3 linked regions of the Homo sapiens genome follow. The protein of the gene in region 1 interacts with the protein of each later gene in a pairwise test. Each region holds a gene or a part of one and is shown in the gene's direction. Other genes may lie near its edges. The genes, in order: TMEM132D, SDHB and COX11.

Region 1 (3,657 bases):
CACGGCCCCTTACAGAGGACCAACAAGTAACTGTCTGCAAACTGCACTGCTTCTTTCACAGGCCTGCCGGGGACAGTGAAGAGGAGGAGGATGATGAGCGGAGGGGCCGCGGCTGCACCCTGCAGTACCAGCACGCCATGGTGCGGGTCCTGACGCAGTTTGTGGCTGAGGCGGCCGGCCCTGGGGGACACCTGGCCCACCTGCTGGGCTCAGACTGGCAAGTGGACATCACGGAGCTGATAAATGACTTCATGCAGGTGGAGGAGCCCAGGATCGCCAAGCTGCAAGGCGGACAGATCCTGATGGGGCAGGAGCTTGGGATGACCACCATTCAGGTAAAAAAAAAAAAAAAAATCCCCAAATCAAGATCTCTCTGTCTTCCCACCTCTGCTCTACCTAGAGGAGAAACCAGCTGTTTGTCATTGCTGGGAATGGTATCTATTTTTAGGATGGGTAAATTCAAAGAAATTGTGGAGTAAGCAATACAAGCGATTTTGGCTGGGTGTGGTGGTTCACGCTTATAATCCCAGCACTTTGGGAGGCCGAGGCGGGCAGGTCATGAGCTCAGTAGTTTGCGATTAGCCTGGGTAACATGGCGAAACCCCATCTCTACCAAAAATACAAAAAATTACCCGAGTGTGGTGGTGCATGCCTGTGGTCCCAGCTACTCGGGAGGCTGAGGTGCAAGGATCGCTCGGGCCTGGGAAGCAGAGGTTGCAGCGATCTGAGATCGTGCCACTACACTCCAACCTGGATGATGGAGCTAGACCCCATCTCAGACAAAACCACAATGCAAGCCATGTAATGATGTGATGAGAATCTCAAAATTCCTCACATATTACTTATAGGGGAGAAACTCTGGGCTGGCTCCCATGGTGGCTCACGCTTGAAACACATGATTTTGCCCAAGCCATGGTAGGCGTTACCATCTTGGTAAACAAGCTTTTGAGGTGAGCTTACCTGATCTGAATCACAGGCACGGCCAGCAACTTCCTGCTGAGCCACTTTCCGCCACTGAGCATGGTCACCTAAACCTTCCCACGGCTTCAGGATATTGTGGCCGCCCCTACCGAGTCACAGCCGCGGGCCTGATGAGAACCTGAACAACTCAGAAATGTGCTAAAGGACGAAGTGAAGTGATTGTGCCTCCATATGTCTCGTGGGCCCCTTCTGCTGGGGAGCGGGTGACGGAGAGGACCAGTGGCAACACTTGGGTTTTGAAACACTTTAACAAAACAGTGTTCTGGGAGGCTTGTAAGGGTTTGGTCATTTACCTCCCAGCTGAGAACAAAGCAAGAGATTGTTTTCTTTCTGTGTACATGTAAGGGGTGCAAGTGCAGCTTTGTTACCTGGACATATTGCGTGTCTGCCTTGTTAGTGTAGCCATCACCCAAATAGTGTACATTGTAGCCAAAGGAAGAGTGTATTACTCAGCAGCTGCCCCATCTGCAGGCAATGCGATTGTCTTATCAGGCAATCTGTGAGGTTTCTAAAACAGCTGTGCATGAGGAATCATTATAACTGAGACTAGATTGGATCGTGGAAGATTTAAAACATATCCATTCTGGAAAATTGGCTGGTATATCTAACACTTCATTTTATCCAAGGAGGAAAATAAATGGGTTTGGGCCGTAGACCAGGAGTCGCATGCTCTAATGATCTCTAAAGGCTGAGAAGCTACCATCAGTGAGGAGAGTAGGCTGGGTGTGTGCTGAAAGACAGACAGCAGCTGATTTTCCTCTGAGTGTTAGAGAGACAACAGGGAGTGGTGGTGCCTGTGGAAAAGGGGCAAGCTCTTACTCAGAGCCAAAAGCTGCCAAGAAGAAACGCAAGTCTACTGCAGCCATATGTTGCAATTTTCCAGAAAAGCTGGAAGTCTGTTTTTATATGCAATCTTCTGGCTCTCTAAATGATGGTCATTAATTCTACCTTAAAATATGATTTATGTCAGACAAAACATATCTGTCTCATAGATGAGAGCTTGCAACCTCCACAATTGACTAAGAAGTTGAAAGACCTGAATCCCTACCATAAATCTATAGGCTAAACTGATACTGATGCCCAGAAACTCACAGCGAGATGAGAATTTGGTATTAACATCTTCCCTTAAGTGATAATTTAAGTGCAAAGGGGAAAAGCCATACCGTTCTGAAACCAGGTGTCAGGGAAGAGGAAGTGGGCCAGCTTCCCACACATTAAACATGAACATTATTTTGGTGAGGCCTCTACTCCTGCGAGCCTTGGTTCTTTTCTCTTTTTTCTCACTGTGTCCTCCTGAGTCATAAATTCACTTGTCCACTTTCTTCTGGGGACACACCTCTCATGCTCGCCACCATTTAAATTGTCCCAATCGGACCAGAAAGTGAAGGTGGCATTCGGGTAGAAGTATGGAGCTTTGATTCCTGGTCTCAAAGGGTCCTGGGAAAACTGCTGTCTTGACCTACATCATAAATATCACCAAAAACTTGAAAAGAGAAAGAGGTCGAGAAAGCAGGAGAATGGAGGATGAAGCCCATCTCTTCTAGAAGGAAGGTTGTTATACGGGGCTGTGAGGAGTCTAAGACAGCTGTTTATCATTTGGGCGAAGGGTGAGAGGAGGAAGAAGTGATTCCACAGACGTTCCTCAAAAGCAGGATTTCCTGTTCAGGGTCTAAATTGCACATAAGCCTCATTTTCCAGGTCATTCCAGGTGTCCAGAGGAGAAATGAGGCTTTGGGTTGTGGGCATCAGGCGTAGACATTCAGAACCTACGTTTATCAGAATATGCCCAACGATATTCCTCATCAACAGGCATCATGCGCTGCGTTTCCCAAAGTGTACAGTGTGGCCTCCAGTGACACGCGTGATTGAGATGGACCAGCAGGATCCGCCTTCTAGTTGCACATTGGTTTTTATGTGCAAGAGCGAAAGCTATCAATATGTAACCAGTACACCCAACCCGTCATTCACTGGTGATAGGAAGGCTTTTGAAAAAAACAAATCATTTAAGTAAAATAAATAATTTTAAACAAAATACACACTGTGCTGTAGAAGAATCATAAAGCTAATAGTCGAATGAAAACGTCAGTTCCTCCTGTCCAGGATGGAGCATGGTGGGAAACGGAGCTGATGTGTGGGGTGTGGGGAGAGGGCCAAGCCCTACCTGCCCACTCCTTGACACCACCTTGCTTTATGCAAAAAATGCATTACATTTTCTCAAGCAATACATATGATTCAGAAGGTGGTGTGAGTGGGAAAGGCCTGTTCTCATTCATTCTGGCTCACATGTTGCCCTGCCGCTGCCTGCACACTGGCACTTCCTCCTGTGACTGGAGGCATTGCCTGGACCACAGAAAGCCTTTCCTTGTCATGTCGCTTCTGCCCTCCAGATCCTGTCTCCTCTGTCAGACACCATCCTCGCTGAAAAGACCATCACTGTGCTGGACGAGAAGGTGACCATCACAGACCTCGGGGTGCAGCTGGTGACAGGGCTGTCACTCTCCTTGCAGCTCAGCCCAGGAAGCAACAGGGCCATCTTTGCCACTGCAGTGGCTCAGGAACTTCTGCAGAGGCCAAAACAGGTATGGAGGAGGGCTTGAGACACACTTCAGCAGGGTCCCTCACCAAGTGGATCACACACCAGGCAGGCACCACGCCAGGCGGGTCGCACAATAGAGT
Region 2 (3,657 bases), on another chromosome or scaffold:
ATTATCTTTTTGCACTGTTGCGTTTTATGTTTGCGTTTTCACCACTGGTTATAATGGCTAAAAGGTTGGATTTTTGAATCAAGTGACCTGTGTTGCTATATGATCCTATCCTCGTCTTTTAACTGGGAACAACAAAACATTTTTCATAGAGATGTTATAAAGATTAGAGATTATTTGGCACCGTGTGTGACAGATTATAAAGGTTCGATGAATGAAATCTGGCAAATTTTTAGATATATGTATTCAACGAATTTTTTGGTGGAACACAGATAACATAATCCTGAGAATTAACTCTTTGTACAGACCTCAAGATGAGCAAAGCTCTATCACTTTCAGAACCATGACCACTCTGGTGATTTTGATTTCAGAATCTTCTTTCATTCTGGTAAACCCCCTTTGCCCCACCAAATATTGTATGAAATACATTTTTTTTTTTTTTTGAGACAGAGTCACGCTCACGTTGTTGCCCAGGATGGAGTGCAGTGGCGGAATCTTGGCTCACCGTACCCTCCGCCTCCCGGATTTCAAGCAATTCTCCTGCCTCGGCCTCCCAAGTAGCTGAGATTACAGGTGCCCGCCATCGTGCCTGTCTAATTTTTTTGTATTTTTAGTAGAGACGGGGTTTCACCGTGTTGGCCAGGCTGATCTCGAACTCCTGACCTCAGGTAATCCACCTGCCTCGGCCTCCCAAAGTACTGGGATTACAGGCATGAGCCACCACGCCTGGCCTATAAAATACATTTTTGACACAAAACAAATTTAAATTAGTTGTACTGAAAAAAAAAAAATGATGACATTTTGGGGCACTCCAAAACTGATGTTGGGATATGTCGACTTAGATATTCAGTGTAGTACATCCTGGCATTGCTCTTATTTCACATCATTCATATGATAAGACTTTTTAAAAATTTAAATTAGCTCTAATACAAACTTAGTCTCTTTTGGAAAGATAATACGTGATCAATTATCCGTGTAGAGTGGATATGAAACAGATATTTAAATGTTATAAAGAAATGTTGAAGGGAAAACCTCATTGCAGGTAACCACAGTCATCCCACAGGCCTTGTGGTTCTGATACCCAGCTTGATAGAGCCTAATGCCTGTTGCCCACTGACAATACTAAATCAGGCTTTAGAACTAGGGGGTTATGCCTGGCACAGTGGCTCACACCTGTATGTAATCCAGCACTTTGGGAGGCTGAGGCAGGTGGATCACGACATCAGGAGTTCAAGACCATCCTGGCTAAAACGGTGAAACCCCATCCCTACTAAAAATACAAAAAAGTTAGCCGGGCGTGTGACACGCGCCTGTAATCCCAGCTACTTGGGAGGCTGAGGCAGGAGAATTGCTTGAACCCAGGAGGCAGAGAGATCTCGCCACTCCACTCCAGCCTGGGTGACAGAGTGAGACTGTCTCACAAAAAAAAAAAAAAAAAAAAAAAAAAAAAAGAACTAGGGGATTATGCTCCAGTCCCAGATTCTGTTTAAAGCCCGGTTAGGGGCCAGGCGCGGTTGCTCACACCTGTAATCCCAACACTTTGGAACGCTGAGGCAGGTGGATCACTTGAGGCCAGGAGTTTGAGCCCAGCCTGGCCAAATGGCAAAACCTTGTCTGTACTAAAAATACAAAAATTAGCTGGACTTTATGGCACATGCCTGTAATCCCAGCTACCCGGGTGGCTGAGACAGGAGAATTGCATGAGCCTGAGGGGTGGAGGTTGCAGCGATCCAAGATCGCGCCACTGCACTCCAGCCTGAGCAACAGAATGAGACTCTCCAAAAAAGAAAAAAAAAAGTCCAAGTTAGGGCCAGACACAATGGCTCACACCTGTAATCCCAACACTTTGGGAGGCTGAGATGGGAGGATTGCTTAAGCCCAGAAATTCCATACCAGCTTAGCCAACATGGCAAGACCCTGTCTCTACAAAAATTAGCTGGACATGATGGTGTGCACCTATAGTCCCAGCTACTTGGGAGGCTGAGTCAGGATGATCGCCTGAGCCCAGGAGTTAAAGGCTGCAGTGAGCCATGATCTCCAGCCTGGGCAATAAAGCTAGACCATGTGTCTATAAAAATAAAAAATAAAGGCCGGGCAAGGTGGCCTGTACCTATAATCCCAGCACTTTGGGAGGCCAAGGCAGGCGGATCACCTGAGGTCAGGAGTTCAAGACCAGCCTGGCCAACATGGTGAAACCCCGTCTCTACTAAAAATATAAAAATTAGCTCGGCGTGGTGGCAGGCACCTGTAGTCCCAGCTACTCAGGAGGCTGAGGCAGAAGAATCACTTGAAGTCGGGAGGTGGAGGTTGCAGTGAGCCGAGATCGCGCCATTGTACTCCAGCCTGGGGGACAAGAGTGAGACCCCATCTCAAAATAAATAAATAAATAAATATTTTAAAAAATAAATGAAAAATAAAAGTGTCCAAATTAGAAGTAAAAACTTGAAGTAGCCCCATTTTTTAAAAGGCATATTGTCCCACTTACCCTACTATCTGCCTCAGGCACAGCAGCCACCCACTCTGGAAAATAGTTTTGTCAGTTGCTTAAAAAAAACTAAACTTGTAGCTACCATACAGCCCAACAATTACACACCTGGGTGTTTATCCTGAGAAATGAAGATGTAACGTTCACACAGAAATTTGTCCACAAATGTTCATCTCAGCTTTATTCATGTCACCAAAAATTAGAACACCCCCAATGTCCCTCAGTAGTTACATGGTTAAGCAAATTGTGGTACATGATACCTTGGAGTGCTACTCAGCTATAACAAGAAAAAAGCTATTGCTGTACACAGCAACTTGGATGAATCTCCGGAGAATTCGGCTGAATAAAAAAAGCCAATTCCAAAAGGCTACATACCAGATGATTATATTGATATAACATTCTTGAAATGACCGAATTTGAGAAGTAGAGAACAGATTAGTGATTGCTAGGGCTTACGGAGTACAGGGGAGGTAGGGTGGGAGGAAGTGGACAGGGCTATAAAAGGGCAATGTTAGTGATCCTGTGCTTATGGGAATGTCCCCTATCTTGACTAGCACTGTCAGTATTCTGGTTGTGCTGGTGTGCTACAGTTTGCAAGATGTTCCTGTTGGGGAGACTGGGTAAAGAGTATGTGGGCCCTGGCATGGTGGCTCATGCCTATATCCCAACTCTTCGGGAGGGCCAGGCAGAGGATCACTTGGGGCCAGGAGTTCAAGACCAGCCTAGGCAACACAGTGAGACCCCTATCTCTACAAAAATAAATGTAAAAAAACTAACTGGGCATGGTGGCGCATGCCTGTAGTCCTAGCTACTGGGGAAGCTGAGATGGGAGGATCGCTTGAGTCCAGAAGGTTGAGGCTGCAGTGAGCTGTGATCATGCCACTGCACAATCAGTGACAGAGCAAAACTCTCTCTCTTTTTTTTTTTTTTTTAGCTTGAGTTTCACTTTGTCACCCAGGGTGGTATACAGTGGCACAGTCTTAGCTCACTGCAACCTTTACCTCCCAAGTTCAAGCCATTCTCCTGCCTCAGCCTCCCTAGTAGCTGGGATTACAGGCACACGCCACCACACCCTGCTAATTCGTTTTTTTGTATTTTTAGTAGGGACGGGGTTTCACCATGTTGGCTGGGCTGGTCTTGAATCCCTGATCTCAGGTGATTTCCCAACCTCAGCC
Region 3 (3,023 bases), on another chromosome or scaffold:
CTGCCTCAGCCTCCCGAGTAGACCTGGGACTACAGGCGCGTGTCACCACACCCGGCTAATTTTTTTCTATTTTTAATAGAGACGGGGGTTCACTGTGTTAGCCAGGATGGTCTCCATCTCCTGACCTCATGATCCGCCCCCCGTGGCTTCCCAAAGTGCTGGGTAAGGGCTTTTTTTAAAAGTGATGTCAAGGAAATAACTGTCATGAATAAAAGAAATGTCAGACATAAATACTCTTGATGCCCTATGATTATTTCTGTGGCCATAGGGATTAGGTGCTCTGATTAGTGATTTATATAAAAGCTCTACTATACAGAGAAGTACAGAAAAGATTCAAAACCATTAACCAACGTGGGAAAATACCTGTGATACCTTAGAAAAGCAGAATGTTAATAAAAGTGAAGCTACAATCTTATTTGGATTATAAAAGCTGTGATATGGAAAAGGACCAGACAGGAATATGGAAAAATTGAGTTAAGTATTTTCAGTGGAATTACAAGGTCATGGGTAAATTTTATTTCTATTAATGAAATACTAGCAATAAAGGGAAATGTGTTTTTTATAAATGGCTAAGCTGGAAATTGTGAGTTCGACTATCAGTGATAATAGTTGACTTATCTAGTGAACCTGCTTTTCCCAGACTCATTTTTGACCATGCCAGGTAACCAAGGGATTGCTGAAAAATAGGAATGACTTTAACAAATACAGGCTCATGACATCCCAAAAGTAGTCAGATTCTTGACACAGTTACAGCAATGGTCAGTTACCATATGTAAACTTGGCTCCAAATGGATTATAAATACTACATTGTTTTTAAACTTTTATCAAATAAATAGATCATCAACACCTAAAAGTATTGTTTAACATATTTGGTATCTTTTTCTAGACTACTGGACTTGGAGGATCAGCAGTTGCAGGTCATGCCTCAGACAAGATTGAAAACATGGTGCCTGTTAAAGATCGAATCATTAAAATTAGCTTTAATGCAGATGTGCATGCAAGTCTCCAGTGGAACTTTAGACCTCAGCAAACAGAAATATATGTAAGTGACTAACCAGTCATTAAAAGATTACTTTATTAATGTAAATTCCTTTCTTTCATCACTTAAACTGTCAGAGGACTAATTTTAACACTATGATTCTAATAAAACATGGCATTTTCCATTGTTCCAAATTGACTTTTACTATCATGTAACTTAAAAGTTAAAGTATAAATTCTGTTACATTAGGTGTAAAGCACTATTAAAAAGTAGTCTATGGGAATAAAAAAATTTATAGTAATGGAACCCGTCAGTATTTTGAAATTAAGTTTAGATGAGTGAAACAGTTGGGAGTAGCAGTAACCGTCAGGCTATATAGCTTCCTGACTTTTCCTCAGGCATAGAAGACATGGGAAAAATGTGGAAAAGCATTGGTTACAATGAGTAGTTTACTGGTTTATATCAAAAGTATCCCTGTCCTTCTAAAAGAAAACAAATTGAGGGCCTTTGAAATAATCAATAAGTAGTAAATAGTTATGTTATACTCCAGTGAGACTGAGACTATACCTAAACGCTTTCCTAAAATTTTAACCAACTGTAAGAAAGATTTTAACTGAAATCTCATTAATTGAGGATTAGCCAGAGTGAGTTAATTTCAACCCATATTGGAAAAGCCTTATAAATATTAGTGCTTGCCCAGTTTAGTAAACATGACTGAATCTCTTAATAAAGATTTTATAGGTTATGATTATGAATCTTCTCCAATTACGTGGTAGTATACAAAGGTATTAGTGGCTGAATTGGTACAAGTGACAGAATATCCTTTGGAAAATTTTTTTAAGCCTCGCTATTCCCTTATTTTCTCCAAAGTATTAACACTTTGTGGCATAATAAAGGTTCTAGTCAGTCAGTTTTATTCTGATTTTAAGGTAAGTTTAATGTTGGTATCTTTTTAAAAAAAATAGTCAATCATGACATTCAGGTATAAGTGTTACAGAAAAGTTGGGCTAGGGCTGTGATATGATTGGCTTGGACACATTTTAAATAATGTAATTTGCCGATTATTCCTTGAAGACCTCAAATATACAAGAGGACAGTTCATAACTAATTATGGATATTAGAACATTGGTTCTTCATTGACATATGCAAGTAAGTTTTTAAACTCAGATATGTTTATGGGTAATATTCACAATTTATTTTGCTGAACCCTACATTAGATTAGGTATTATGGTCTGATGAATAGGCAAAATAATGAGACTAATTTAGCAGGGAAAAGAGGAACTTTGTGAGATTCAAAGTATTGATAATATATATATTCTTTAAAACAGGTGGTGCCAGGAGAGACTGCACTGGCGTTTTACAGAGCTAAGAATCCTACTGACAAACCAGTAATTGGAATTTCTACATACAATATTGTTCCATTTGAAGCTGGACAGTATTTCAATAAAATACAGGTACATCAAAGTGTAAACTTTACAGAATATGATAAAGATACATGAAACGGTTTAGTATGAAACTTAGTGTTTTAGTAGATCTTGTGATTTCTGAAAACGAATTTCTTCTAAACATCAAGCTATTTTTCTTCACTATCTATACCTGCTATGCAGAGATTGAGAACCAAACCAAATGGATATCTGCTTTTAAGATTAGAATTTGTTCTTCATCCTTAAAGCAGAACTCATTGAGATGAAAAGATGCTCTTAATTTATCACAGAACTGTGTATTTAATAGTATGCTTATTAAAATCACGAAGTGTACTGGAATGCTAAGATAAAAGAACTGTATAGTTTCTGTTATGTAATACGAGAATAGAAATGTTATTAAAATCTTTCTATAATTTCCAGTGCTTCTGTTTTGAAGAACAAAGGCTTAATCCCCAAGAGGAAGTAGATATGCCAGTGTTTTTCTACATTGATCCTGAATTTGCTGAAGATCCAAGAATGATTAAAGTTGATCTTATCACTCTTTCTTACACTTTTTTTGAAGCAAAGGAAGGGCACAAGTTGCCAGTTCCAGGATATAATTGAAGTCAGCAACTAAGTCT

What was found.
Region 2: the proteins of TMEM132D (region 1) and SDHB interact in a two-hybrid assay, tested with the Homo sapiens proteins (one large-scale study listed by BioGRID).
Region 3: the proteins of TMEM132D (region 1) and COX11 interact in a two-hybrid assay, tested with the Homo sapiens proteins (one large-scale study listed by BioGRID).

The regions. Positions count from the first base shown.
Region 1 is NC_000012.12:129,078,437-129,082,093, reverse strand, and holds part of TMEM132D (transmembrane protein 132D precursor), read left to right. Parts: intron 1-61; coding exon 62-335; intron 336-3,368; coding exon 3,369-3,560; intron 3,561-3,657. UniProt on the Homo sapiens protein: Regulate neuronals morphology via inhibition of the WAVE regulatory complex (WCR), a complex that controls F-actin cytoskeletal dynamics.
Region 2 is NC_000001.11:17,047,439-17,051,095, reverse strand, and holds part of SDHB (succinate dehydrogenase [ubiquinone] iron-sulfur subunit, mitochondrial isoform 1 precursor), read left to right. Parts: intron 1-3,657. UniProt on the Homo sapiens protein: Iron-sulfur protein (IP) subunit of the succinate dehydrogenase complex (mitochondrial respiratory chain complex II), responsible for transferring electrons from succinate to ubiquinone (coenzyme Q).
Region 3 is NC_000017.11:54,962,716-54,965,738, reverse strand, and holds part of COX11 (cytochrome c oxidase assembly protein COX11, mitochondrial), read left to right. Parts: intron 1-886; coding exon 887-1,042; intron 1,043-2,307; coding exon 2,308-2,433; coding exon of another isoform or gene 2,434-2,478; exon of another isoform or gene 2,479-2,818; intron 2,819-2,823; coding exon 2,824-3,006; 3' UTR 3,007-3,023. UniProt on the Homo sapiens protein: Exerts its effect at some terminal stage of cytochrome c oxidase synthesis, probably by being involved in the insertion of the copper B into subunit I.